Linked DNA regions of Homo sapiens. The protein of the gene in region 5 interacts with the protein of the main gene of each other region in a biochemical or structural test. Each region holds a gene or a part of one and is shown on either strand. Other genes may lie near its edges. The genes, in order: APBA1, RAPGEF6, ARHGEF12, MPP7, HCN2, DLG3 and ARHGAP21.

The links.
Region 1: the proteins of HCN2 (region 5) and APBA1 interact in a test that uses a peptide from one of them, tested with the Homo sapiens proteins (one large-scale study listed by IntAct).
Region 2: the proteins of HCN2 (region 5) and RAPGEF6 interact in a test that uses a peptide from one of them, tested with the Homo sapiens proteins (one large-scale study listed by IntAct).
Region 3: the proteins of HCN2 (region 5) and ARHGEF12 interact in a test that uses a peptide from one of them, tested with the Homo sapiens proteins (one large-scale study listed by IntAct).
Region 4: the proteins of HCN2 (region 5) and MPP7 interact in a test that uses a peptide from one of them, tested with the Homo sapiens proteins (one large-scale study listed by IntAct).
Region 6: the proteins of HCN2 (region 5) and DLG3 interact in a test that uses a peptide from one of them, tested with the Homo sapiens proteins (one large-scale study listed by IntAct).
Region 7: the proteins of HCN2 (region 5) and ARHGAP21 interact in a test that uses a peptide from one of them, tested with the Homo sapiens proteins (one large-scale study listed by IntAct).

What each region holds. Positions count from the first base shown.
Region 1 is NC_000009.12:69,665,354-69,669,371, forward strand, and holds part of APBA1 (amyloid-beta A4 precursor protein-binding family A member 1), read right to left. Parts: intron 1-4,018. UniProt on the Homo sapiens protein: Putative function in synaptic vesicle exocytosis by binding to Munc18-1, an essential component of the synaptic vesicle exocytotic machinery. May modulate processing of the amyloid-beta precursor protein (APP) and hence formation of APP-beta.
Region 2 is NC_000005.10:131,428,811-131,432,828, forward strand, and holds part of RAPGEF6 (rap guanine nucleotide exchange factor 6), read right to left. Parts: intron 2,540-4,018; coding exon 2,049-2,539; intron 407-2,048; coding exon 92-406; intron 1-91. UniProt on the Homo sapiens protein: Guanine nucleotide exchange factor (GEF) for Rap1A, Rap2A and M-Ras GTPases. Does not interact with cAMP.
Region 3 is NC_000011.10:120,472,333-120,476,350, reverse strand, and holds part of ARHGEF12 (rho guanine nucleotide exchange factor 12), read right to left. Parts: intron 3,302-4,018; coding exon 3,224-3,301; intron 1,792-3,223; coding exon 1,716-1,791; intron 1,012-1,715; coding exon 844-1,011; intron 1-843. UniProt on the Homo sapiens protein: May play a role in the regulation of RhoA GTPase by guanine nucleotide-binding alpha-12 (GNA12) and alpha-13 (GNA13). Acts as guanine nucleotide exchange factor (GEF) for RhoA GTPase and may act as GTPase-activating protein (GAP) for GNA12 and GNA13.
Region 4 is NC_000010.11:28,058,234-28,062,251, forward strand, and holds part of MPP7 (MAGUK p55 subfamily member 7), read right to left. Parts: intron 1,511-4,018; coding exon 1,417-1,510; exon of another isoform or gene 1,283-1,416; intron 371-1,282; coding exon 262-370; intron 1-261. UniProt on the Homo sapiens protein: Acts as an important adapter that promotes epithelial cell polarity and tight junction formation via its interaction with DLG1. Involved in the assembly of protein complexes at sites of cell-cell contact.
Region 5 is NC_000019.10:603,313-607,330, reverse strand, and holds part of HCN2 (potassium/sodium hyperpolarization-activated cyclic nucleotide-gated channel 2), read right to left. Parts: intron 3,788-4,018; coding exon 3,364-3,787; intron 2,271-3,363; coding exon 2,109-2,270; intron 1-2,108. UniProt on the Homo sapiens protein: Hyperpolarization-activated ion channel that is permeable to sodium and potassium ions. Displays lower selectivity for K(+) over Na(+) ions. Contributes to the native pacemaker currents in heart (If) and in neurons (Ih).
Region 6 is NC_000023.11:70,492,952-70,496,969, reverse strand, and holds part of DLG3 (disks large homolog 3), read right to left. Parts: intron 3,595-4,018; coding exon of another isoform or gene 3,495-3,594; intron 1,563-3,494; coding exon 1,517-1,562; intron 1-1,516. UniProt on the Homo sapiens protein: Required for learning most likely through its role in synaptic plasticity following NMDA receptor signaling.
Region 7 is NC_000010.11:24,597,934-24,601,951, forward strand, and holds part of ARHGAP21 (rho GTPase-activating protein 21), read right to left. Parts: intron 2,998-4,018; coding exon 2,713-2,997; intron 77-2,712; coding exon 12-76; intron 1-11. UniProt on the Homo sapiens protein: Functions as a GTPase-activating protein (GAP) for RHOA and CDC42. Downstream partner of ARF1 which may control Golgi apparatus structure and function. Also required for CTNNA1 recruitment to adherens junctions.

The DNA.
Region 1 (4,018 bases), on a different chromosome or scaffold from region 5:
AACTATTCTGAACTCAAGTCCTCATCTCAGGGTCTGCATGCATAAACTGCTTTAGCATCCTATGGCAATTCTGTGTCCTGTTTGAAAAACAGCTACCTATCTGCAGAAATCAAGGTAAACGAGCTTTACCCTCATTCTTTACACCTGAGTTACTTAAATCTTTGGAAATTTCTCATCAATTCCTCTCCGTAAGTATTTGATAAACCCTTACTAATGCAGAGAGTCAGTCTGTGTTATAGAGTATACCCAGATGAACAAAACAAAGTTCTAGCCTCAAGGATCTTATACTTGAGAATGGAACATGAAACAAGGAAGAAGAAAAGAGAGCAATATTTAAAGAAGATTCAGGACACAGAAGAGATGTAAGTTCCAAGGAGCAGAACTACTTCCAGCTGACTAGTATTTCATCACTACCCAGACAGAATCACGCTTTGTTTTCTGATGTGATCTCGGCTCACTGCAACCTCTGCCTCCCAGGTTCAAGCAATTCTCCTGCCTCAGCCTCCCAAATAGCTGGGACTACAAGCATGCGCCACCATGCCCGGCTAATTCTTGTATTTTTAGTAGAGACAGCATTTCGCCATGTTGGCCAGGCTGCTCTCGAACTCCTGACCTCAAGTGATCTGCCTGCCTCAGCCTCCCAAAGTGCTGGGATTACAGGCATGATTGTTTTCTAACTTAAATACATTTGATTGAGGATATTCATCTTTATATAAACCCAGTACTGATTCATAGGTCAGCCCAAATACAGTAGATGGTAATACAGCCTTATGGGCAAACAATTGAAAATGAAAGGCAAAGCATTTTATTGTGAATTCCCTAAGTGACTGCTCCAGGTAAACCAAGGAAACCAATAAGGTTTCCCTGCTGTCCCTTGAGGATGCCAAACATGTTCTTATCCAGCCTTTTCATTTTTGATATCCTCTCTGCCTAGAAGACCCTTCCCCCAAATATCTGCAGGGCTCACTACTTCACATCTTTCAGCTCTTTCTGCTTAAGGTCTTCCCTGACCATACTATATAAACTAATGTCACCCCCCACCCACCCACTATCATCAGTCCATTGCTCTCTCTCTTTTATTCTTCGTCATAGCACTTACCACCTGGCATATTATGTAATTACTTATTTATTTATTTTTAATCTCCTTCCACTAAAAGTTCTGTGATATTAAGGACATGCCTCCCCCCACCCCATATTCCTTGCACCTAGAATAGTTTCTGGCCCAGAGAAAGTGTTCAATGAGTGTATGTTGAAGGAATGAATAAATTTCATCATTAAAACCTCAAAATCACCACTCATTACAGTTGAAGTTCCATAAACTCACCTGGAATCATGACATAATCCCATAACTCAAGGATCTAAAGGGTTCACAATCATTTTGTGAAAAATGTGGGGTTTTTAAAAATAAAGCTTCAATGTATATATCAGGTATGAATAAATAGTTTTAATGCTATCATAAACTTGCACAGGCCATAAAAGGCAACTCATTCGATGTCCATTGTGTAAGAATGAAATCCTGAAATTTAAAATTTTAGATACTGTTGCTAGCTTACTTAAAAAAAGTTTATTCATGTATTCATGTGACAAATGTATATTGAATGCATATGATGGGTATGGTATTGGGCGAGGTGCTATATTTGATTTTTCTTTTGAAAACTGACTTTACATGTACGTCACTGTAAAACCATATTCTACCATTACAGATAGAAAAAGCTCATCCTTTAAAAAAACACTTACATTTTTCCCCATTGTTTTACTATAAACTTCTTAAAATTTAGCTCAGATCTCTGAGAGAGAATATTTACAGGAAATACAAGTGGAGTCTTTTATTTGGATAATTTTAAAGGTAAACATTCTCCTCTTTTTACTGCATTTAAGGGAATGAAGAACCACTGTATTTAGTGAGATTAAATGCTCACTATACAAAAATTACTTAAGTAGTTGTCAAACTCCAATTATATAGCGTTAATTGGTTTCACTACAAATTCCTGCTTTTCAAACACATGAGGTCCTCATGGTTGGGTAATGATCTTTTATTCACTCCTAATTGACTCACTGCTCTGTTTCCACAATGCCCACAAGTCTTTGTCATTCTACTCCTGGCTTCAACCTGCCCACCTCTCTTTGACCTCACTTAAAAGACTGTGGCCAAATTCCTTTCTTTCCACCTCAAAATTCCTATGCTTCTGTCTCAAAAGAATCCTTCCTTTGCTTTCATCTAGTATCCTCCCATCTTCTTGAAGACTTAATTCCCTCAATTGAGCCTCTCCCTTACATTTTCAATCTCTTTTTCCCTCAATGGATTGTTCTCCTCAGCTTATAAAGCAGGCTCAAGTCTTCCTATACTAAAAATACCACTTTCCCTCTACTACACCATTGTTGTGATATATCATACTCTCTCTCCTTCTCTTTTATCTCCCAACTTATTGAAAATGAAGTCTGTTTTCACTGCTTTCCATTTCCCTTCCCCCACGCCTCCCTTCAACCCTTGCCCCTGGCTGCCACTTCCACCTACCACAAAGACAATCAAGGAAATCCAAGAGTCAAATCCAATGGCTTTGCCTTGGTTGCACCGTCACCCATGGGGTGTGCTGTGTGAGTGACAGGGGCTCTCCTCACCCCTTCCAGCTTCCATGACACTGTACCACTTCACTTCCATCATTTTTCTCCAATTGCCCCTTGTTTAACGTGGTTCCTGTCCTCTTCTTTCTCTTTCCCCTCCAACATACAGACATCCCTCAAGGATCCTATCCTTACTTTTGCTTCTTCTTTCTTCATTTTCTTTATCAGTGATTCCTGGGATATGAAAATCGCTCCTAAGCAGATGACCTACAAATCTCCTGGTAGCTCTAACCTCCCTCTGTATTCTAGTCCCTTAACTTGGACAAGCCTGTCATGCTCAAAAAGAAACTTCTCTCCTCTTCCTTATCCTCTGTTATATCTTCTTTCTGAAAATGACCCAACTGCTCTCTCAGCTAAGCCTGACAATGATCTTTTGGCCTCCCTTTTCCCTTCCTCACTTTCCAGTGACTGTTCAAGCTCCTCAGATAATTCCCGCACACCACCTCTTAGGTGTGTTCCCTTCTTGCCTCCCACTGCCTCTTTCCATCTTTCCCCTACTTTGACAATAGAGTCTATCTGGTCTCCCTCCTGCCAGCCTTTTCCCATGTCATTCCATCCAACATAATACTACAAAAGTATTGCCCCAAAGCACAGTTCTGATACTGTCAATCTTTCTCCTCACAAATCTTCTATAGTTCCCCAGTCCTTACTGAACAAAATCCACACTCCTTAGCTTGGCGTACAAGTTGCTCCACCACCTTGAACAAACCTCTCTTTCTTGCTTTATCCCTCATTACATCTCTTGGCATTCCTAGCGCTTCAGCCAAAGCACACCATTTTTTTGTTTCCTGTGTAGGCATACACCTTCCACTGCCAGGCCTGTGCTACACTGTTCCTCCCCCAAGCATGCCCTTCCTTCTCTGCCAACCCAAATGCCACCTTAATCACAGCTCAAATGCTATATCCCATGTAACCTTCCCTAATTCTTCCATCAGAAGTCACTTTGTACCCTGTGAACTCCCACAGCTCTGCAGGAATACTGCTTTTTCAGCACTTAATCATTTTTCACTATTTTTACAGTTAGTAACATATTTCCTCTTTTCTCCTTCTAGATCATGATCCACCTCTGGCCAGGATCTAAGACTTAGCATTCTTTGAACCTCCAACCCTTCTCAACATTCCCTGTCCCCTATCCAAAGGTACAGTGGATCTGAGATGCGGGAGGCAATTAACAAATGTTTGCAAATTAATTATTGTAACCCAGAGAGTTAACTTCAGATTTTACGGCTTGAAATTCTCTCAATTTTAGCAACAATTACTTCTTCTTTCTAGGATAAAAGTCCTATCTCCCCAAGGTACTACAGTTAATTCCTTTTGGCCCCAGAGGTCAATTTTCAAATATCTCTTACCCCTAAGTCTTCCGAAACAAACAAACACAATAACAACAAAACAAAAC
Region 2 (4,018 bases), on a different chromosome or scaffold from region 5:
AATTACTAATTACCATAAAATACCAAAGTAAAGACCATTTAATGTGTTCAGCAATTCATTTAAGAGCCTTTAAGAGAGCTTGTCAACATACCATCTGCTTCGCTATCTGCATCAGTCACATCTCCTAGTTTAGGATGGAATGGCTGCAAATTATGCCTCTGAGGCTGAGTTACAATCTTCGATGGAACACAGGCCACGAGGTTGCTACTGAGAGAAGCTGGTGGCAGTCTAGAGAGGCTGTTATGCATCATCTTTGACCTCTGCACTGCCACACTATAATCTGGAGGTTTTAGGTGTGTGTGGGGTCCTTCCTTTAGGTCCGCTAAAGAAATCCCCAAATATCCTGGAGGAGTGGGAGGTGGCTCCCTATACCTATCGTCCTTCTTGGGTGAGGTGACACAGTACACTGGCATGAAAAATAAGCAATGAAAATGTTAATGAAAAAGAAATGGAAAAAAAAAGAAACCACCCCACAAACTTATTACAATGACAAAATACAACTTAAAAATAGACAAAATGAATAAACTTGAATGATGGCAGATCAAAAACATTTTTTAAAAGTTTAATAAACAAACCTCTTTTTAAAATACATAAACAACTATATTAAGTCCTGTAAACATTAAATAGAACGAGAGAGTTGAAGGAGATGACACTGATGACAAGCTTCCTTCTGCAATTCAGCCCCCATATCACAGAAGTACATGACAACTCCTGAAGTCACACCAGCCCTAAAGATATCAGAAACATTTAAAAGTTCACCCTACACACCGATTCTCTGTAAACTGGGAGACTTTACATAGAAATGACATTTGGGCCATCTGTTTAAGGGCTGTTTCACCTTCTCTCTGAGACATGAACCAATGTTTTCTGGCACTCCTGGGCAGATTAGTTCTCAGTCCTAGCATATAAACTTTAACTTTGCTGGTACGGAGGAACTAATTCCTTCAAGAACTTTACTTCTGGCCAGGTGCGGTGGTTCACGCCTGTAATCCCAGCACTTTGGAGGCCGAAGTGGGTGGATCACCTGAGGTGAGAAGTTTGAGACCAGCCTGGCCAACATGAAGCCCCATCTCTACTAAAAATAAAAAAATTAGCTGGGCATGGTGGCAGGCACCTGTAATCCCAGCTACTTGGGAGGCTGAGAGAGGAGAATTGCTTGAACCTGGCAGGCGAAGGTTGCAGTGAGCCGAGGTCATGCCACTGCACTCCAGCCTGGGCAATACAGCAAGAGTCCATCTCAAAAAAAAAAAAAAAAGTTGGAAAAAAATGAATGAGCTAAAAACCCAACCTATAATGCAATTTGACAAGTAACTATAAAATCAGCACATTTCACCTTCACATTTTTAGTAGTTAAATGCGACACCATGACTGTTGCATAAATTTAACAGTTGATTATGATATTAATTCAAAGTAGAGTCATTCCATATAAGTAGAAAAGCAGTTTTATATCCACGTATTTATATAGTTTAGGAAAGAAATTTTTAAAAAGTATTTGATGGCCAAATACTAAAAAAAAAAGTTTACTAAGAAAGCTTGGAATGGAATTCACAAACAGGAGTTGGCACACTCATGATGTACACCAAGAGAGTATACTGAAAAATGTTCTGGACTTCCTGATTGCATTTTCTCTCACTGTTACGACCTAAAATCAATAGCAGATTCAATGTTTCTACCACGTATGCATACCAATTGTGGTCCAAACAATTTATGAGGTGATAAAGAGAATAATCCCTTTACTACTATTGCACACTAATGCGATGATATTCCTCAATAAAACCAAAAAGAACTTAAAAACAAAAGACAAACAAACTTGTCCCTCTAATTAAATACCTTCACATCAGACTTTTCATTTTAATGGGGTTGAATAGCTGCTCCAAAGTCTTTGAGAAACCATGAATTTTTGGGAAATAACTTGTTTGTTTGTGAAGGAAAGAAAGGTTGTTAGAGAATGAATTTTTGCGACGATAAAATCCAGGGCCAAGATATCCCAATGCCATTTTTTGACTACTTAATCTCTAAATGCCACAGACAACAAAAACACAACTTACCAATCAAGCCCTTTTCTGTACTTGAAGTGACAGTTTTATAAACTGGGTCAGTGGCATCCTTGGGGTCCAAGCCTTCAGATGACTCAGCTGGGGTGCTCTCCAATACTCTCTGTTTAACTGTCCCATAGTTTGGTTCATACGTGTCAGACAGAGAACTGGAGGAGGTCCAACTCTTTCTCTCTAGGCTTCCTTTACACTGCCCACAAGTTCTAGAGCAGCTTTTAGAACAGGAATAGGGCTCAGAGTCAGTGGGTTCAACTTCAGCAATGGGGTCATCCAAATGGGTATGTCTGTAAGAGTTCAAAAAATCCCAGCTTTTTGGGTTTGGAAGGCTTTGGAAGTTGTCATGGGAGCTGCTTGAACACGAAGTCCAACTTCCACGACCACTGTCAGCTGCTTCTATAATGATATGCTCTTGAGAAATCTCTTCATTGCTCACAGACGATGAGACAGCTAAACACTTGATTAGAGATGGCTTCAAGAGTGTCCACCTAAAATTGGAGATAACGTACAATTAGAAGGCTTGCCAGAAAAACTATCTTCTCTCTGTTTCAAGTTATTATTGCCTGTGAGAAACTACAGAGCACGTACCACAAGTGTTCATGCCAAATAACATCGTGAGGAAAACAATATTATCATCATTCATCACTATATTCCTTGTAAGTATTTAGTTAACACTCAGAAGACACAGTAAAGAAACTCTAATGCTTAGCAAAATTTCCTTAGAATTTTTCTTTTTAAATTTTAAAATGTTAGATATTTTTTTTTTTTTCGAGACAGGGTGTCACTCTGTTGCCCAGACCAGAGTGCAGTGGTTATTTACAGGCACGATCATGATGCACTGCAGCTTTTAACTCCTGGGCTCAAGTGATCCTCCCGCCTCAGCCTCCCCAGCAGCTGGGATGGACCAGAGGTATGCCTGGCAAGTATTTTTCTTGAACTGATTTTAAATGAAAATGTAAAGATGAGAGTTGAAATGAATAAGGTTAAGTATACATATTCATTTTTGGTCATCACAATATTAGACTACTGCGTCCATGCATACAGAATTAAGAGTTCCCAACTTGAAGAATCATGTTTTATTTTTCAACGTACCTCTGAGGTTAGCCCAGTACAGTGCCAAGTAAACAGCAACTTCCCCAATTACCCATGAAATGAATAATTTATAGCAGGGGTCCCCAAACTAAAGCTCATGGGCCAAATTTAGCCAACAGCCTATTTTTGTATGGTCTGGAGCAAAGAATAGTTCTGTTTTTTAACCTTTTAAAAGGTTAAAAAAGAAAAGAAAACAAAACCAAACCAGAAGAATTTGTGACAGAGACTATATGTAGATTGCAGAGGCGAAAATATTTACTACCCAGCCCTTCACAAAAAAAAGTTTGTAAACCCCTCATTTACAGTATAGTGCAGGGGGTAGCAAACTACAGCCCAGGGCCAAATCTGGTGGTCTCTTTGCTCGTTTTTGTAAATAAAGTTTTGGCTGGGCGTGGTGGCTCACGCCTGTAATCCCAGCACTTTGGGAGGCCGAGGCGGGCGGATCACGAGGTCAGGAGATCGAGACCATCCTGGCTAACATGGTGAAACCCTGTCTCTACTAAAAATACAAAAAATTAGCCGGGCGTGGTGGTGGGCGCCTGTAGTCCCAGCTACTCGGGAGGCTGAGGCAGGAGAACAGCGTGAACCCAGGAGGCGGAGCTTGCAGTGAGCCGAGATCGCGCCAGTGCACTCCAGCCTGGGCAACAAGAGTGACACTCTGTCTCACAGAGCGAGACTCCGCCTTAAAAAAAAAAAAAAGTTTTACTGGGACACAGTCATGCCATTTGTTTATGTGTTGTCTATGGCTATTCTGGTGTAATAGCAGAGTAGTTGTGACAGAGGCCTTATGGCCTGTGAAGTCTAAAATGTTTACTATGTAACTTTTATAGAAAACATTTGCTGACCTCTGGTGTAGAGATCCTAGTTTAGAAATC
Region 3 (4,018 bases), on a different chromosome or scaffold from region 5:
CTGTAATCCCAGTACTTTAGGAGGCCGAGGCAGGTGGACCGCTTGGAGCTCAGGAGTTCGAGACCAGCCTGGGCAGCATGGCGAAACCCTGCCTCTACATAAAACAAAAAAATTAGCCAGGTCATGGTGGTGCATGCCTGTAGTCCCAGCTACTCAGGAGGCTGAGGTTGAAGAATTGCTTGAGCCTGGGATGTGGAGGTTGCAGTGTGCCAAGGTTGTACCACTGCACTCCAGCCTGGGTGACAGGGTGGGACCCTCGTCTCAAAAGAAAAAAAATAAATAAATCCAAATTACCAGATTAAATGCTATTACTCTTTTGCATTTATTTTGAACTGCACTTTTGCTAAGTTGTTAGTTAATAATATTCAGTGAGTAGTGGAGAAAAGAGGTCACAAATTTATTTTGCCACCATGAAACTAACAAGTTTTAAAAGGGACCCCGTTGTTAATAGAGTTAAAATATAACTTGCCAGTCAAATTTGATTTTTAATCAACACTACATCCGTCTCTTTGGTTTTTGATTTTTTTCTCACCAAATCAAAAAACATACCACCCTAAATGAAAGGCTTTTCATTGGGATCTATCAATGATTTGAACATAAAGAACCAAAGTAATAGCATAAAAATTTTCAAATGCAGAAAACTGTTCACAGAATCGAGACACCCTAATAACTTTGGGGTATAAACTCTTAGGTCTCTTTCTAAGCAGTAAATTTCATGTAATTTGCTTAAGAATATAAAAATAGCAAGACTCTATGCCACTTGTGTTATTGAGACAGCACCGAGTATCTTATGCAACTTCACAATGAATCTGGAAATTAGTATCCTTCAGTGGACATACTTGCCTGTTGCCACTTGTCGAACCAACACTGTACTCAACTTAATGACAGGGCTAAACGTGTGTTTGCTATCAGCTGTAGATGCCAGAATCTTACTATGACACCTTAAAACCAGTCTATCATCCTGCTTTTGTAACAATACAAGAATGTCTTCCAGCAGCAACGTGTATAAATCTAGAAATAAAAGTGCAGAAAAAAATGGTAAGTACAGAAATGGAGACGCGTTTGATTAACTTTATAATGATTCAACAGAGGAATTCTATTTCTGTTAAAGCTACAAAATTTTAAAAATTGACTTGTATATTATCTTTTAAAATTTCATTTTCAGTAATTCATTTTTATTTTATTTCACTGAAGTGTCAGTCTGTGACCAATAGGAAATAAAAAACAACAAGCTGGGTGTGGTGCTGTGCGCCTATAGTCCCGGCTACTAGGGAGGCTAAGGCAGGAGGATCCCTTAAGCCCAGGAGTTCGAGGCAGCAGTGCACCATGACTGCATCTGTGACTAGCCACTGTGCTCCAGCCTGGGCAACATAGAAAGACCTTGTTTCTGAAAAAACAAAAACGGTTCCTCATCACAGACAGTTTAAGATGTACTGGTCTAAAGAAAGCTTACAAAGCATACAAAGACTCACTAGACTATAAGAATGATGGAAATAGGACTAAATCAGTTCTCCACTACATTCCTAAATGAATATTTAACACATCTTACATATAATGAAATAACACAAGCAGATCTACAAATGTACAAATAACACGAGGTAGCACTGCAAACTGCTGAGAGAATGGTTCTCTCCTCTTCCCTTTGTCATAGGAAACTTTCCTATTCCTTCCCTTTTGCCACTCTCCCCAAAACTAAAAGACAATATCAGACCTACCAATAGTTTTATCTCTATTCACCTTCCAAACCAATGGCCCTTCATGAATCATCTTCCTTTTTGTTAAATCCAAATTCTGGCAAAATAAAGAAAATCATGCACAAATAATTTCCAAGCACTCAGTAACATGATTATCTATATAATACAGTCTCTTTTAAAGAAATTCTTAATATAAAATACACCATTTACATTCAACTATCATTATTGCTATTTGTCAGTTCTTGAAAATGGCACAAAAGCCATATTAAAGTAATCTGCATACAATTTTCTAAAAAGGAAAAGGTATCTTGCAGAAGAACATTCAGGAGTACTATCTTCAAACCTCACTCTAAACAGATGATAACAGATTATGAAGATCAAGTTACAAACATTCAGTCACTAGATTCTCAACGTATCCTTTAATTTTCCTATGAATAACTGGATGAGCATGGTACATATGCTTGTCTATAAGAAAGTGGCTTCTGAGTTCCAAGGCTCTAATTTCAAAGAAAGTTCTAAGAAATAGTACTCATGAAAAGTCCAGGTACTACTCAGACTTGGTCTAAATATTAACAACTTATTAGTAAGAGAATCATCTTTTAGTATTAGCAGCTCTAGAAAACTCTCATTCTTTGGAAGCTAAGGGGAATAAGCACATTTACGTGCTTGTTGACGAAGTATTAATATATGACATAAAAGTCTATTTTAACAGCCACCAAATAAATCTGCCAAAACCACCACCTAGTGAAATGGTACAAAAACACTTAAAATCCGAAAAAGTTAACACATAAGCCCACATACTAGAAGTGGCAATTAGTAAACATTTTACTATCGTTCCTGTAATGGTTCCAACTTTTATGCTTCTGAAGAGCCTCATGAGAAAATAGTATGCTATCTTGTGTTATTAAATGATCTGGAAAGTTACCAAACAGTCCTACCCTTATTTAAACTACAGAACACAGGCTGGGCATAGTGGCTCATGCCTGTAATCCCTGCACTGTGGGAGGCTGAGAAAGGAGCACTTGAGCCCAGGAAATCTGGACCAACCTGACAACACAGCGAGACCTTGTCTTTACAAAACACAGAATTAGCTGGGTATGGTGGCATATACCTATAGTCCTAGCTGCTAGGGAGGCTGAGGTGGGTGGACTGCCTGAGTCCAGGAGGCCAAGGCTTCAGTGAGCCAAGACTGCACCACTGCATTCCAGCCTGGGCAACAGAGCAAGACCCTGTCTGAAACAAACTACAGAACACAATAAAATTAAATTTTATAATAATTAGTGTCCCTTAGTCTCCTGCCAATTGCTGTCATGTAATATTACAGTTTTATGCAAGATATTCCTCTAATGAAAAACTAATTTCATACAGATCAAGCATTTAAAAGGCAGCAAAAAAAATCATAAATACAGATAATCTACGATACAAGAACTCCTTCAGGTGACGTATATTCCCACTGAGATGTTAATTACCTGCCAGGTCTTTAGCAAATTTTATTTTATTTTTTAAATTATGATTAGACCATCTCTCACCCTGAGCTCTTCAACATTTGGGTACTCTGACAACTTCAGGCTGGAGGTATCAAGGCGACGCTGATAATCTTCTAGGCGCTGAAAATTAGGCAGGGTGGAACCAAGGTTAGTGCTTTGGTCATTAATGACCTCTCTATTTCTGAATCAAACTTGGCATTTAAAATCTCCATTTTGGCCAGGCGTGGTGGCTCACACCTGTAATCTCAGCACTTTGGGAGGCTGAGGCAGGTGGATCACGAGGTTAGGAGATCAAGACCATCCTGGCTAACACAGTGAAACCCCGTCTCTACTAAAAATAAAAAAAAATTAGCCGGGCATGGTGGCGGGCGCCTGTGGTCCCAGCTACTTGGGAGGCTGAGGCAGGGGAATGGTGCAAACCTGGGAGGCGGAGCTTGCAGTGAGCCGAGATCACGCCACTGCACTCCAGCCTGGGCGACACAGCAAGACTCCATCTCAAAAAAAAAAAATCTCCATTTTACTGAGCTCTTTGCAATGCTAGACAGGACTGAAAACTCACTCTCTTCCCGTGGCTTTGGTGATAATATACTCTCCTAGTTTTCCTCCTGCCTCTTTGGCTTTTCTTTCTCAATCTTCTTTTCAAAGTCATTGGTCTCTTATTAGCTTATATTTATTTTCTGAATATGTAAATCATGCACACAGTACAAAATTCAGATGGCTATATAAGGCAAAAAATAAAAAGTCTCCCTCTAACCTTGTCCTATTGCCCCACCCCCCTCAATTTTCCCTAAAGAAGCAATCACTAATATCCATTTCTTGGGTAGCCTTTGAGAAAAA
Region 4 (4,018 bases), on a different chromosome or scaffold from region 5:
TGACAAAAACTGAATATAAATAAGAGTTACAAACACAGGTCTTGGAGCTTCCTCCACTTCTCTTTCTAATAATATTATGGGCTTTTCTTTTTCTCCACCAAAGATGTCTCCAATTATATTTAAATGCTTTTGCCATCTCAGAAAAGCCACATATATGCCAAAAGTGAGTTGACTTCATATTATTTCATACTGAAATGCTCACATGAGGTGCTGTAGATGACATGGGTCAGAAGGGTATTGAATAGCTCATTGTTTACTTACATGAGGCTGAACATCCAACAAACAAACTTTGTTTTTAGCAAGGACAGACCGAACTGAGTCTATACTTGTGCCGTAGTAGTTGTTTTTATATTCTCCATATTCAATAAACCTGTAAAAAATTAAATGCATTGGAATCATTTGTGAATTTAAAACAATTATAGGTGGCAAGATAAAATTCATAGGTAAAAGACGTTTCTGCTGAACACGTAATTTTTTTAAACTGTGTTTAATAATATAAACAGAGCCAAGTATTTCAAAATGTCAGTTTTTAAAAAATCTTTTATTATACATTTTCAAATCAGTAACACTTGCTTAAATTACACTTAAGCAGAAAAAAAGTACTTTAGTCTAGTAGGGCTCTAATGTTTTCCATCACCCCCTTTTTCTTCAGAACTAATGCAATGCAATAAAATGGTGAATAAGCCAAACAATAGAAACTACTGGAATTTCATTGCACGCTACGGAGTAACCCAGCCCAGCTTCAGAACTAGAGGCGCTGGGTGGTGGCTAATGGAGCCAGGGCAGTCGATCATGTGCTATAAAAACACAATCACTGCGCCAAACACGAAAAAAGCATTTCGATGTTTTAATAAAATCCCACAATCCTGCATTAAAACACATATTGCTTCTGATAGCCTAAAATATTTGTGCCTCAGCAGATGGAAAACCTGGGCAGGGGGCACTGGGGTGGGCTTGGAGCTAGCTAGAGAAGACGGTACCAGCAAGTTAATTATCATCATTTCAATTTTTTGAAGAGCCAATGAGAGAATGAGATGCAGGTGTGTGAAGCAGACGCTGGACCTAGTGATATACTACATAGTTGTTGGTTTTTGAAGTAAAATTCTATCCAAATTACATGTTAAGATTCAATTAGTGGGCTGGAAGGAGGTCAGAATAAGACACTTGCAACCTTCCCTCATTCTGCAAAGCAGTGTCTACACATTTTATAGAAATGAAGCAAATCCAGGTTACTAAAAAATTAGAGGTGAAGATTAACAATAATTACCAACCAAATTATTACCTTTTCATCTGTTTCAAATATTATTATGATAATTAAAATACACTTCAAATGGAGAACTCTCAGTTGTCTAAAACGGGACAGGCATGTGCTTATAAAAAACAGTCACATGAAAATTCTCAAAAATGTCCACATACTTGTTATTTTGTACATCTGTCTCAAACAAATGCTTGGAAATGAAAATGTATTCAACACCATCACTCTCCTGGCTTCTTCTTGCTCTGGTGGTATCTATGATTTAATGAAAAGGAGTTTAGAAAAGCCCACATCAGCCACCTTAAGGAAAATACTAAAAAAGAAATCAAGGGTATTTAATTAGTTTTTTCAACAGGATTTAAAAATGTATTTAAAAAGCAAATTAGCTAATAAAATACAGTAAGCTGTTATAAATCCAGATTTTCCACTGTTATTAAAATTATATTGATTTGAAGATGGGTTAAAAAGTTAATTGCATTGTATGTCTCTGCTATTATTTGCTATTTTGAAGGCTCTCTAACCTGATACAAGAGTGCTATTTAAACTCCTGAGGAAAAAAACCTTTTTTTTTTTTTTGCAAATAATATGCTTATTATCTTTATTGATCTTCATTCATTAAAGCAAATCTATTAACCACTAAGTTGTTAGATAAACTCTGAAACTGTTTGACTCTCTTCTTCTCATGGGACATAGTGGGTATGCCATCAAAGTTTTGTTTTACCAGCCAAGTGAAGCCAAATACTTCTGTGTGCTACTCATTCCTCCTTTGCAAAGTCATAAATAGCATCATCTTAGAATACTATTGAACTTCTAACCTTTCAGTAATCTTGCCTAATTATTTATTAACGAACTAAAATGGAGCAGAAAATATAGGATTCATTAAAACGACAACATGAACAAAGCCCAAGGCACTCCAGTGCTGACATGGCAAATGTAAACCCACTACAGGCCATCCTTCCTGCAGATCCCAACTAAAAACTATGGATGCCAAGAAACTACCCGAACACTTTGAAAATAAGTAAAGCAGGTAGACTGTAGAGGGGAGTCAAACTGCACGGGGAGGAGTTTAACTCTATTTTCCTCTTAGCTTTGCCCCAAGGGTGGGAATCCTTCGCAGAGCAGCATGGTAGAATCTGCAGCAAAATGCCAAGAGAAGCCCTAACGTTCTGGTGCAAAGAACTTGGGACGGGGGGTAGAAAAAGTCCTTGTGGGCTGTAAAGTGTGGAGGAAATCCAGGAGAGAAGAAAGCTGGAGAAGAAAATACTTCACTTCTGTGTATGAGTCAACAATAGTCTAAGAATCCTCTCTGTGCTACACACATGTAGTTCAAACTCAAACCAGCACGGCAAAGGCCTTATGAACTGAGAGTGGAATGTACAGGTTTCAGCCTAACCCCTGAAAAAGAGTATCGCAAAACATATCTAAGCCAATGAAGAAAAGGCTTAAAGAACTGAGCTGAGATCTGAACCATGCACACAAGTCTTAGACTAATCCTTGCATCCTAACAGACCCAAATCAATATAACAAAGGTGAGATAAAAGAAGCTGGCAGCTAAAATAAAAACATCAACATTCTCCCGAATATGGTAACAAGACCTAGTGTTAATACAACATTATATTCACAATGTCCAAAATGCAATCTGAAATTATTCAACATGAAAGAACCAAAAACAAAAAAAAACAAAACAAAACAAAAAAAACACCAATTTTCAAGGGGAAAGATAACAGATAGCAACCCTGAATGACCTGGAAGTTAGATTAGACATAAGTCTTTCAAACAGGTACCATAACTAAGCTTGAAAAGGTAAGAGAAAATATACTTGAATTGAACAAAAATATAAATTCTTAGCAGAAGAACAGAAACTATAAAGAAAAAAACAAATAGAAATTGTAGAAATGAAAAATAAAAATATCCAACAGAAACAAATCACTAGATGGGCACAATAACAGAATGACAGAAAGAAAAGCCAGTGAACTTGAAGACAGAACAATAAAATTATATAATCTAAACAACAACAACAACAACAAGATTTAAAAAATATAGATAGAACTCCAGGGACCTATGAGAAAACACATATGTCATAGGAGTACTAGAAGGAGAGGAAAAAAGAGATTGGGGCAGAAAAATATGTTTGAAGAAATAAAGGCCCCAAACTTCTATAATTTGGTGAAATACATAAACTTACCAATTTCAGCAGCTCAGCAAATCCCAAACAGGATACACTCAGAAGGGAAAAATTATGCCTAGACACATTATAATCAAACTATTAAAAGCCAAAGATAAATAAAAAATCTCAAAGCAGCTAGGAAAAAACACTGAACACATAAGTGAATAATGATTTAAACTGTCACAGATTTATTATAAATCATAAAAATAAGAAATCAATGAAATAATATCTTTAAAGCACTAAAGGAAAATACTTAATCAAAATGTGTTTCAAGAATAAAGGCAAAATAAAGACCTCCTCAGATGAAGAGAAACTAACAGAATTCACAGCCGACTGTTCAAAAAAAATATTCAAGGAAGTTTTTTAGGCTGAAGATAAATGATAAAAAGGAAACTTTTATATTCAGGAATGAGGAAAGAACAAATAATTGTGTAAATGTAAACGTCTACTTTTTTCCTGTTAAGTTCATTAAGATATATATGACTATTTTAAAGAAAAGTTATAATATTGTCTGATAGTTTTCAATGTATGCAAATGTAATACATTTGACACCTAAAACAAAAAGATTAGGCTGGGGGAAAGGGTCTTAAATGGCT
Region 5 (4,018 bases):
GGGCACAGCACTCCCCAGGCAGGGACAAAGGCTCACTGGCCACTAACCTGACTGTAGCGGCCGAGGGCTCCCATAACTAACCCTTCTTAACAGTCAGCACATCTCAGCTAGGAAGCAAGGAGTATCTGGGACCTAACTTCATTTATTATTCCTTCTTTTTTGACGGAGTTTCGCTCTTGTCGCCCAGGCTGGAGTGCAGTGGCACGATCTTGGCTCACGGCAGCCTCCGCTCCCGGGTTCAAGCGATTCTCCTGCCTTGGCCTCTCAAGTAGCTGGGATTACAGGCATGCGCCACCACGCCAAGCTAGTTTTGTATTTTTAGTAGAGACGGGGTTTCTCCATGTTGGTCAGGCTGGTCTCAAACTCCTGACCTCAGGTGATCAGCCCCACCTCGGCCTCCCAAAGTGCTGGGATTACAGGCGTGAGCCACCGCGCCCGGCCTCTTCCTTTTGCTTTTACTTATTTTTATTTATTTTTTTTGAGACAAAGTCTGGCTCTGTTGCCCAGGCTGGAGTGCAATGGTGTGATCTCAGCTCGCTGCAACCTCTGCTCCCGGGTTCAAGCGATTCTCCTGCCTCAGCCTCTACAGTAGCTGGAATTACAGGTGCGCGCCACCACGCCTGGCTAATTTTTTATTTTTAGTAGAGACGGGGTTTCAGCATGTTGGTCAGGCTGGTCTCAAACTCCTGACCTCAGGTGATCCGCCTGCCTCAGCCTCCCAAAGTGCTGGGATTACAGGCATGAGCAGCCATGCCTGGCCCATTTATTATTTCTTTGGCATGGTGATACCACTTTCCCAATTCAGGGCCATGTTGTAAATTTTTCTTTAGTTGTTAGAGATCAGGTCTTGCTCTGTGACCCAGGCTGGAGTGCAGTGGTGCAATCATGGCTCACTGCAGCCTCAACTTCTGGGCTCAAGGGATCCAACCAGGCCGGGCGCGGTGGCTCACGCCTGTAATCCCAACACTTTGGGAGGCCGAGGCAGGCGGATCACCTGAGGTCAGGAGTTCGAGACCAGCCTGACCAACATGGCGAGACCCCGTCTCTACTAAAAGTACGAAAATTATCCAGGTGTGGTGGCGGGCGCCTGTAGTCCCAGCTACTCGGGAGGCTGAGGCGAGAGAATCCCTTGAACCCTGGGAGGTGGGGTTTGTGGTAAGCCGAGATCGTGCCACTGCACTCCAGCCTGGGCGACAGAGTGAAACTCAGTCTCAAAAAAAAATAAGTAAATAAAATAATAATAATTAATGTGGGTTAATTAAAAGGGAAATCCATTGGAAAACGCGCTAAGCAGATGTCTGGGTGACAGGACTCATCATAACCACACTCAGCTTCTCTCCACGGATGATCCCAGGCCTGAAAGGTTCCAAGTGGCTGTTTCAGACCCCCAGGGACATTAAGGGGCCAGTGCCGGGGCTGCAGTCCTGGGTCCCCCTCTGTAAAGAGGCCTGAGTCCTCCCGTGTAAGGGGGTCTTGTCCCCACCCCTGAAGGGCCTGTGTCTCTCCCTCTGTAAGGCGGCCTGGGTCCCCGCCTCTGTAAGGGCCCGAGTCCTTCCCTCCATAAGGGGGCGCCTGGGTCCCCACCTCTGTAAGGGCCCGAGTCCTCCCCTCCATAAGGGGGCGCCTGGGTCCCCACCTCTGTAAGGGCCCGAGTCCTCCCCTCCATAAGGGGGCGCCTGGGTCCCCACCTCTGTAAGGGCCCGAGTCCTCCCCTCCATAAGGGGGCGCCTGGGTCCCCACCTCTGAAAGGGCCCGAGTCCTCCCCTCCATAAGGGGGCGCCTGGGTCCCCACCTCTGAAAGGGCCCGAGTCCTCCCCTCCATAAGGGGGCGCCTGGGTCCCCACCTCTGTAAGGGCCCGAGTCCTCCCCTCCATAAGGGGGCGCCTGGGTCCCCGCCTCTGAAAGGGCCCGAGTCCTCCCCTCCATAAGGGGGCGCCTGGGTCCCCACCTCTGTAAGGGCCCGAGTCCTCCCCTCCATAAGGGGGCGCCTGGGTCCCCACCTCTGAAAGGCTTGGGTTCAACCCTCTGTAAGCGGGATAAGGGGGCCTGGGTCCCCCCTCTGTATGGGAGCCTGCGTCTCCCCCTCCGTCAGGGCCCGCGGCGCTCACCACCATGCCATTGATGGACACCCAGCAGTTGCGCGGGAAGTCCTGCAGCATAGGCACCAGGAACTGCAGGCAGCCGTCCCAGTGGCAGAGCAGCAGCATCATGCTGATGAGATTGCAGATCCTCATCACCGCGCTGGCCAGGTCATAGGTCATGTGGAAGATCTGCAGGAAGGCGCCGTGAGCCCACCCTACCCGCTGACCCCCGGCCCCCACCTTCAGAGCCCCAGCCCCGTGCGCCCCCACTGCGGGAGCTCCTGGCCCCCTCCCCCAAATCCAAGGCCCCGCACAGGACCCCCGCCCCACCCTGCAGCCCTGCCCCGGGACCCCCGCCCTCCAAACCCACAGCCCCCACCCCAGGACCCCGCCCACCTCTACAGCCTTCACTGCAGGACCCCCCCAAATCCACAGCCCCCGCCCTAGGACACCCCCCAAATCCACAGCTCCCCACCCCTGATGTCTGACACCGCCCCAGCACAACCCTCATATCCCCACCCCTGATGTCTGGCCCTGCCCCAGCAAAACCCGCATTGCCCCGCCCCTGCTGCCTGACCCCGCCCAGCACAACCCTCATAGTCCCGCCCTTGCTGCCTGACCCCGCCCAGCACAACCCTCATATCTCCACTCGGATGTCTGACCCCGCTCAGCACAACCCTCATAGCCCCGCCCCTGATGCCTTGACCCCGCCCAGCACCCTCACAGCCCTGCCCCTGCTCCTTGACCCCACCCAGATATCACGGCCCCACCCCTGCTGCTTGACTCCACCCCAGCAGCATCATAGCCCTGCCCCTGCTGCCTCGACCCTGCTCAGCAACCTGATAGCCCCACCCCTGCTGTCTTGGCTCTACCACTGCACCATTGTAGCTCCACCCCTGCACCCTCATAGCCCCACCCCTGGGGCCTTGACCCCACCCAGATCTCTCATAGCCCCATCCCTGGGGCCTTGACCCCACCCAGATCTCCCATAGCCCCACCCCTGGGGCCTTGACCCCACCCAGATCTCTCATAGCCCCATCCCTGGGGCCTTGACCCCACTCAGATCTCTCATAGCCCCATCCCTGGGGCCTTGACCCCACCCAGATCTCCCATAGCCCCACCCCTGGGGCCTTGACCCCACCCAGATCTCTCATAGCCCCACCCCTGCTGCCTTGGCCCCACCCATGCACCATTATAGCCCCGCCCCTGCTGCCTTGGCCCCGCCCATGCACCATTATAGCCCCGCCCCTGCTGCCTTGGCCCCGCCCCCGCCCCACCTCACCTCCTCCCACTGATGGATGTAGCGGATCAGGCGTGAGAGGCGCAGCAGCCGCAGGAGGCTGAGGATCTTGGTGAAGCGCACGATGCGCAGGGCGCGTGCCGTCTTGTAGACCTCGGAGTCAATGCCCTTCTCCACGATAAGGAAGATGTAGTCCACGGGGATGGAGGACACGAAGTCCACCACGAACCACGTGCGCAGATACTTCTTCTTGATCTTCTCGGGGTCCAGGATGATCTCCGTGTTGTCCTCGATCACAATGCCGGTGCGGAAGTTCAACACCAGGTCCATGAGGAAGAAGGTGTCCGAGACCACGTTGAACACGATCCACGGGGCAGTGGTCTCATCCTTGAAGAAGGTGATGCCCACTGGGATGATGATGAGGTTTCCCACCATGAACAGCAGCATGGTGAAGTCCCAGTAGAACCTGGGGGCGAGGGTGCCCACACCTCAGGCCGGTGCCTCCCCGGGGCACCTGCGGGACCAGCCCCGGGCACTCTTCCTTGGGGGACGAGGGGCGCCCACACCTCGAGCCAGTGCCTCCTCCGAGGAGCCTGCGGGACCAGCCCCGGGCCCTCTTCCCTGTGGGACGAGGGGCACCCACACCTCAGGCTGGTGCCTTCCCCCAGGCACCTATGGGACCAGCCCCGGGCATTCC
Region 6 (4,018 bases), on a different chromosome or scaffold from region 5:
TCTGCCAAGTCCCTCCCTATGTACTACAAGCCATACTTCCTTCAGCAGCATCCTCTTCATCTGAATCAAATTGACCTGGATGGTTTCCAAATCGTATTTCAAAATGCATCTCCCAAGGCTAACAACAGGAAAGAAAAGACAGTGACAGGAGCAAAGAGAAGTCCAGGGACCAGTCTGCTCATGGGTGTCCCCCGCCCAACAGAGCCCCTGAAGTACAGAACCATGTGGCACTCCACAACTAAGAGGCCAAACGCTGGATGGGTTAAGCAGACACCAGGGAGCGCTGCTCTGACCATTCGGTGGGCTCCCCAGCCTTCCTGCCACCACTCCAAAGCAGGAGAGCCTGGCTTCAGTGGTGAGAGGGGAAGCATCTCCATCCACCACCAGACACATATGTCAAAACACAGACAACAAAACCAACAAAAACACCTTGAGGACAAGGCAGCCCTCCTGTCTCACACAGCTGGGATCTGCCCATCTCTTAGTGGTGAGGGAAAAGAAAGCTCAGGCGGAGGAGCAGCGCTCGTAGGAGGCACAAACAAAGCCCGCCCATCCAAGATGACACGCGAATGAAGATGAGACATGGACACACCAAACTATGGAGAGAGATGCTGCTCATTTCAGCCAAGACCACACTGTTCCAGACCATGATATGCTGTGGCCCCCCCACCCAGAAAGGACTGGCTGAGTTGCCACACATGGCTAGTTCCTGAACAATCCCCATGGGCAACTCCTTTGCCTTTGGTCTGTATTATTTATTGAAGGAGAGTATATGCTGATAGAACCCATTTGGTGTCTGTGCACCCTTGCACGCAGCAGGATGGCCACTAAGGCCTCATCATCTAGGTCTTTTTCATTTTCCACTCCAGGATTCTTTTCCAGAAAGGAAAATGAGGTTGGAGTTTTCCTGAGATAAAGCACTAACTATATATGGTCCATAAATGATGCTGAGGCCCCTAGCAGACCAGCTCAACCCCTTACAGGTGCTCTGTGGGAAGCCAAACAGTGGCTGTTTGCTGAGGCCCGGGATCTGCTGGGACATCTCAGATGCAGGTTGGGAAAAAGGGGTCACAGTACCCTTGCCCCTAGTTAGAGGACTGTTAACAGCTGCAATTCCTACACCCAATTCTTTAGCGTGGTATCACTGGGAGAAGAATCCAACCAGCAGGCACCCCTCCCTTCGACAATAGGCTAGAGATTAGCTGAGTGGTTACCTTGGAGAAACATTTCAAGCTTACTTCACTTCTAAGGTGGGATGCCATGCTCACGCCCTCCCACTTTGAGTAGCAAAAGGTAAACAAAGGCATGAATGATATGGACTTATTTGGGTACTAGGGATCCATAGCAAACATGTAACATATGGAGCCACATGCACTTCTTCCTGCTGTGATGTCAGAGTGCTCACAAACACTGCCCTCCCCTCACCCTTCACCCTCACCCATGTCCCCAATAGCCCCACCCCCACTATCTCCATTCATGCCACAAGTACAGTGAACGGTGTGTAAGTTGGACTTACTCAGGTTCTTTGCTCCATAATAATCGTCACTTAACCCCGGGAAGTCCTGATTTCACAGACAGCAAGGGCGGAGAGAGGACGACGGGGAGAAGAGGGGGGAAGGGGAAGGGATGGGAGGGAATGGAAGAGAGGGAGAGATTTGGGGAGAAGAGAAAAAATAGAGAAAAAGACAAGGGGGGAGGAAGAATACAGAGGTAGGTGAGCACTAGTGACAGAATTATGAAACACCATGAAGACCTAGCACTATAGTGAGGCCAGGAACTTTGCCACAGAAAGAACATCCCAGGGCAGATAAGACATCAAGACTTCATGCTGCCCAATTCATTGCCAGAGGGCCTTGGAGTAGACTAGCTTTCTGAGGTGTCTACAGCTGTAGGCCAATGGGACAGGACAGGTGACACTCCAAGGCTTAGAGCACCTGCTTTGACTAAATTTTGGTTGTGGAGCCCAGGTCTCTGTTTGCCCCTGAAATCACCATTTCCCTCTGCAGTGCGTGAAAGAGCAAATGTCCGCGTGTGCCAGGTAGGCAGATAGAATTGCCATCACCTCAAGAAGCCTTTGCCCAATACTGATTCACTCTGTTCAAACCCTTCAGGAAAAGTTTCGCATGGTGTAGAGTGTGGCCTCCAAAGCTGCCCTGAGCTGGACAGATCTTGGGGGATGAGCTCAGCTTCTGGAGAAGCACTAGGCACCTTCAACTCTGTCATCCAGTAGATACCCCCTCGCCCACCAGGCGGGACCACTGAGCAATGAACACCTCCCCAGGCTGGGCTTGGCATGGAGGGACTCTGGGACTCATCTGATGAAACTATGGTGACATCACCTCAGGCCTCTGACTCAGACTGTCTCCTAACTGCTCATGAGCAGAGCCACCCCGTCTATGGCTTCTCATTGAACTACTCCAGGATGATGAGCCGTGGCTGCCATCTAGATGAGGGCACCCTTCTGTCCACCAGGTACCACCCCAGATAGCAATGACTTACACATACCATGACTGTGGACCAAGCTGGCCTGACAGAAGGACATTTCCTATCAGAACCAGTCAGTCTCCTGCCAGCCCCAATAGACCAAGACCCCAAGATCCCTCCATGTAAGACAGAGGAGTCACTGGTAAATGAGAGATGTTTACTGTTCATGATGAGACAAGTGAGAAGACATTTTTCAAGCCAGACCTGGTGTTTAAGGTTAAGGTTGGAGCAGTTAATTGCTGAGGCACACGGTAGAGCAAGAAGATTTATCAGGATTAAATTTCTTCTTCCGTTGAATTTAGCTCAGTGTGACTGCTCTTCCTACCGAACCAACTTTGTGTTTCTCAATAGATCTTTATTTGAACAATGTGGAGCAACACTCCTTCCATGTCAACTCATTTAAGCAGGAAGGATTCTCCTGGGAAAACTGGCTCTGTAGGCACTCTAGGATGACAGCGAGTCTGCTGAGAGTTGTGTGGATATCCTGTATGCTTATGCACGTGCATGGGATTCCAGAAGTAGCCCCAACTCCAGGGATCCTGGGAAGAAAAGGCTCTTCTCTTGACATACATGAGTGAAGTTAAGGGAAAGAAAACACAAGAGGAAGAAACCAGGAGAGCAACACTGAGTCCCTAGACCTTGTTCTCTTGAAAAACCATTTTCCTGACCCTGACAGTCTAGCTAAAAAACCGTTCCTCACCACCACAGCAGAGCTCTGTCTGGCACTTCCACTGCTAGTGCCAGGCACTTCCTGGAGGCTGACCCTGGGACCAGTCCCACCTCAGTGCCTCCAACATTCATTCTAACTGAGGAGCAGGACAAATAAAACCCAACATCTCCTTAGGCAGACCAGTTTCTGCCCTGACTCTGTAGATAAGCAGGTGCACACGCACACAGGCAGGCACGAGGCCACACGTGGCCCTGCCCAGGCTTCTCTCGAGGGAAGGGCAACTGAGGATGAGAGGATGGGGCTGCAGATGGCCTGCTCTCTGGACTCTGCTGCTACTTACGTTCCTGTATGCTGCTCTCCTGGGCCATGTTTTCTTTGCTCTTGTAAAATGGAAACTTTCGAGAGAGGCGGAAACTCTTTTTACGTTTCGTTTTGATCGACTGTGAAAGAACATGAAGATGGAGGGGAAGGACAGAAGAAAAAAAAAAACAGAACAATGGATTTTAAAGCATGCAAGAAAAACTAAAATGGAGACAACGGTGAGCTAAATAAAAGACCATCTCTCACAAATGGAGTCTATGAGATTAAATGAAAGTTGATGTAAGAGGAAAATTATGTTTACAAGAAAATGTTGTAGGGATGTTAGAAGTTTCTACATAATCCAGACACTCATAACACTCACTGGTACTTCCTAAAGAACAAAGGTCACTGTAGCCTCCTGGACACATGCCCTAAGGTACCACTGATATACACATCTACTCCACGTCTCTCTTCCCTCTACTGCTCCAGAAGTTCTTTGGCCTGTGAAGCTCATAGAAAAAAAGGGGTGAATGGAGAACCCGCCTGCCTCAGGTGGTCTGAAGG
Region 7 (4,018 bases), on a different chromosome or scaffold from region 5:
GGGATTCTCACCTCATCAGATTGTTGTATTCTTTTATTCTTCGACTAATTAGATCCCTGTTAGTGACTCCAGTGTCCTACAGAATAAAGTAAAATTAGAAAATCAATTCTAAACATAAATAAGTGATCCTTACTTTTTTGAGGCTTTCTATTGTACTGCTTTGCTTATTTAACACAAACACTACTATCATCTGTTCTCAGTGGAGCTGTTTCAAAGCTTCTATTCAACATCACTGTGTGAAAGATTTTCCAAGTGCCTCCCAACATTGCCAAAGGGTTTTGCTTCTTTTCTGTATCCATGCGATACCTAGGATAGTACCAGCAAGTAACATGTGTTCAATACTTATTGAATTGATCCGTCCATTTAAAATAAATGACTAGGAAGCAGCCAGTGTTTTCTCTAATACCAGAAAGAATGATCAGCATTTAAGAAATATACGTGTAAGTGATTTTTCTTCAAAAAGAAAAACAAATAATATAGGTGGATAAAAGATGAAAACAGACTGCCAGAATTTGTTAGTGACTGACTAATTTTTAAGGATAGTGAAACCAAGGATCAACTAGTATCACAAGCGGCAGTTACATTATCAGAAGATAAGAGAAAAGCTCAAAATTTGCATGATTTTTTTTTAACCTCTGTGAGTTACCTTGTATGAAATGCTATATGGTAAACCCAGAGTTGACCATAAAGTGATCCTTTTTTTCCTATTCATTCCAATTATACATTGATATTGACTGGGGTTCTCAATTTTTTTTAACTTGCCTCATTTTGATGATAGTGAATGATGATACAGTTTACAAAGAATACAGTCTTTAAATACGGGAGTAAGTTATCTTGAATTTAAATAGACTCTTCCAACTTATCAGCTGAGAGATCATATGATTAAGATCTAGAATAAGACTGCCTGGATTTAAATCCTACCCCTGATGCTTAAGTCACTGTGTGACCTTAGGGAAATTATTTAGCCTCTCTTTGCCACTGTTTCCTTATTTTTAGAATGGTGGTGATGATAATAGGACACATTCATATGGTTGCTGAGATTAATGCATGTAGTATGTTTAAAATAGTATCTGCCATATGGTATGTGCTCAGTGAATTATTGTTTTCTCATCTATAAAACTGGGGAAAATACTTGTGTACCTGTGTCTTAAGATTAGATGGTGATGCTAATAGCTCACATTAAGTAAATGTTTATTACTTGGCAGGCATTCTTCACATGCATTATCTCATTCAATCCTCCAAACAGCCACTATGTGTCACAGAACAAGTCATCTGAAGGAGTTTTAACAATGACAGTCTACTGCCTGAGAGAATGCCTGACACATAGTAGGTGCCTGTTACACAGAACTCCTCTGAACTATTACTTAAAGCTGAAATCCACATCTAAGTTCTTATTCTCCCTGTTTATTTTGCAAAAATTCAGGTCTGATGCCCTCTGTATAGCGGGTAGTTGTACAACATAGGTTGCACTGATAAAGATCTGGTGTTATTTTTAACCACAAACAAGGCAGAGTGTAAACTACCAAAGGAAAAAAAGCACACTTTTCCTATGGTGTAACGTTTTAATACTTTGAATTGGATATAATGGAAATGACTAAATTAGAACATAATTTGCATAAGTTTACATTTAATGTAGGCATTCCTGAGTATTAAAAGAGAACTTCGTGCCCCTTTTTTGGTTATAATAAATAGGCATGAAAAGTGAGAACACAGTGAAGAAAAAACTGTGTTAATGATAAGAAAATACTTGAGCAACTGCTACTTCATCATTGCTAGATTTGCTTGATAAAGTTTATAGTTATACATACTTTAAAAACTATCTTTACTATTGAAATTCCTACTGTGAAAATACCTTGATGATCATAAGCTGTAAATTCTCAAATCCCTAAACACTGTTCTGCATGAAAAAGAAATGCTGGGCCGGGCGCGGTGGCTCACGCCTGTAATGCCAGCACTTTGGGAGGCCGAGGCGGGCAGATCACAAGGTCAGGAGATAGAGACCATCCTGGCTAACACGGTGAAACCCCATCACTACTAAAAATACAAAAAATTAGCCGGGCATGGTGACGGCTGCCTGTCATCCCAGCTACAGGGGAAGCTAAGGCAGGAGAATGGTGTGAACCCGGGAGGCAGGGCTTGCAGTGAGCCAAGATCGCGCCACTGCACTCCAGCCTGGGCAACAGAGCAGGACTTCGTTTCAAAAAAAAAAAAAAAAAAGCTGACTTATGATTTTTGAAAATGCAAGTTTTCTTAGAAACTAACTATTGTGTGACAGTAGGCTATTCCATATTCTTGACTGTATAGTTCTCTTAACAAAAATCATCAGTATCACTCTGCATTTATATAGTTATTTATACTGGTAAGTATTTTTACTGTAACTTAAGCCCTACAACAATCCTGTCTTTGAAAGATGGAAATGGATCTGGAATAACTTGGTCACAAACAACCAGGACTAGGAATGTAGTTCATTGCTTCTGAGAAGGTATACAGCATATATAAATAACCTATTTTTCTAGTTCAGTGATGGTGATTTTCCAATGTGTGAAAATAATATAAAACAGGTATGTTTGAGTTTTCCTTTTCATCAACTGTTTTACATGAAAATAGCACATTATAATTTTTTTATAAAAATGATATATCATATTCCTTAGATCTTTGTAAGAAAGTGTTGTGAAAGGGTCAGATTTCTCCAGCATTCCTTTGAACACCCACCTCTTCGTTTAGGTTGCTGCTCTCCTGGATCGTCTTGATCCAAGCTAGCATATCATCTCTGTCTTCAGCCTGAAACAGGCATTCACAGTCGGACGTGGTGAGTCGAAACACATTTTTCCTCTTGGTCTCACTGTAAGAGATGTCTATCAAGCAAGCATTAACACTGATGGGCTGCTCTTCCTCAGACGGAGTCGTCTGCTCTCTTTTATCTTTGTACAGGTAAAGTGAATGACCCCGAAGGACAACATACATCTGTTTCCATGGCCGAATACTTCCACCAACTCGCTAGAAAACATGCGACAGTTCTTTAATAGTCAATATTTGGCTAAATCTTTGTGACAGGATAAGCACATTAAGCAACACCCTTCCTCTGCATTTACATATAACTAGTGTAGCAGGTGGCAGATTTAGCTCACTACATTATTTGTGAGGAGAGGAAGGATAAAAATTGTGGAGCATAAACTGAGTTAGGCAGTGTATTCATATCAAAGTCAAGGACTGTGAAATCCCAACTTTAGTTGGGAAGGCAATATGAACAAAGCTAATCAAATAAAATAAATGTAGCAAAACATATCAAAAACAGTAACGGAATAGAAAATTTAAAAATCGGTCCAAAAAACCTGTTGAGTGAAAGACTTACGTCTTAGAGCACACAAATGACAGATACTGCAGGAGTTCTCCAACAATTGTATACATAACTAATTAACAGAGTTCATCAACTTTATATGGCTAAGCAACTCTATCCACATCCAAAGTGAGCTTTCTTAAAATTTTTAAACTCTTCTGACAGCATTAAAATGTTCTTATATATAAGCTGTCCAAATATTATAGAAAATTTTTATGGCAAAGTCTTTTTCTGTTGAAATCTACTGGATGCATATATTGATATTTTTATATTTGTTTAACTTAATATTTTTAAAATAAAATGAAACAAAGTTATAAAGGTAATTTAAAATAAACTAAGAAAAGAGACATAAAAATTTAAAACTGATTTGCCACTTCCTAAAGGACAACGGAATAACCCATTGCTAATAAACTAATAAGAAAAGCAGAGTTCCTTTTTAAATACTTAGATTTCCTTTTTACATTGCCAAAACGTAAGACAATATATTCTACATGTAGCTGATACACAGGACAAAAAGTACCAAATTAATGCAATAATTAGAATTTTTTTAAGGAATACTTTTTTTAATGTAGAAAAATCTATTTATAAATGGTTTTTTTTTTCACTCTTTAATCTGGATATCATGCCATTTTATGTATACAGGCTTTATGGTTTATTTGTCAGGGTCTGCATTTCTGACAC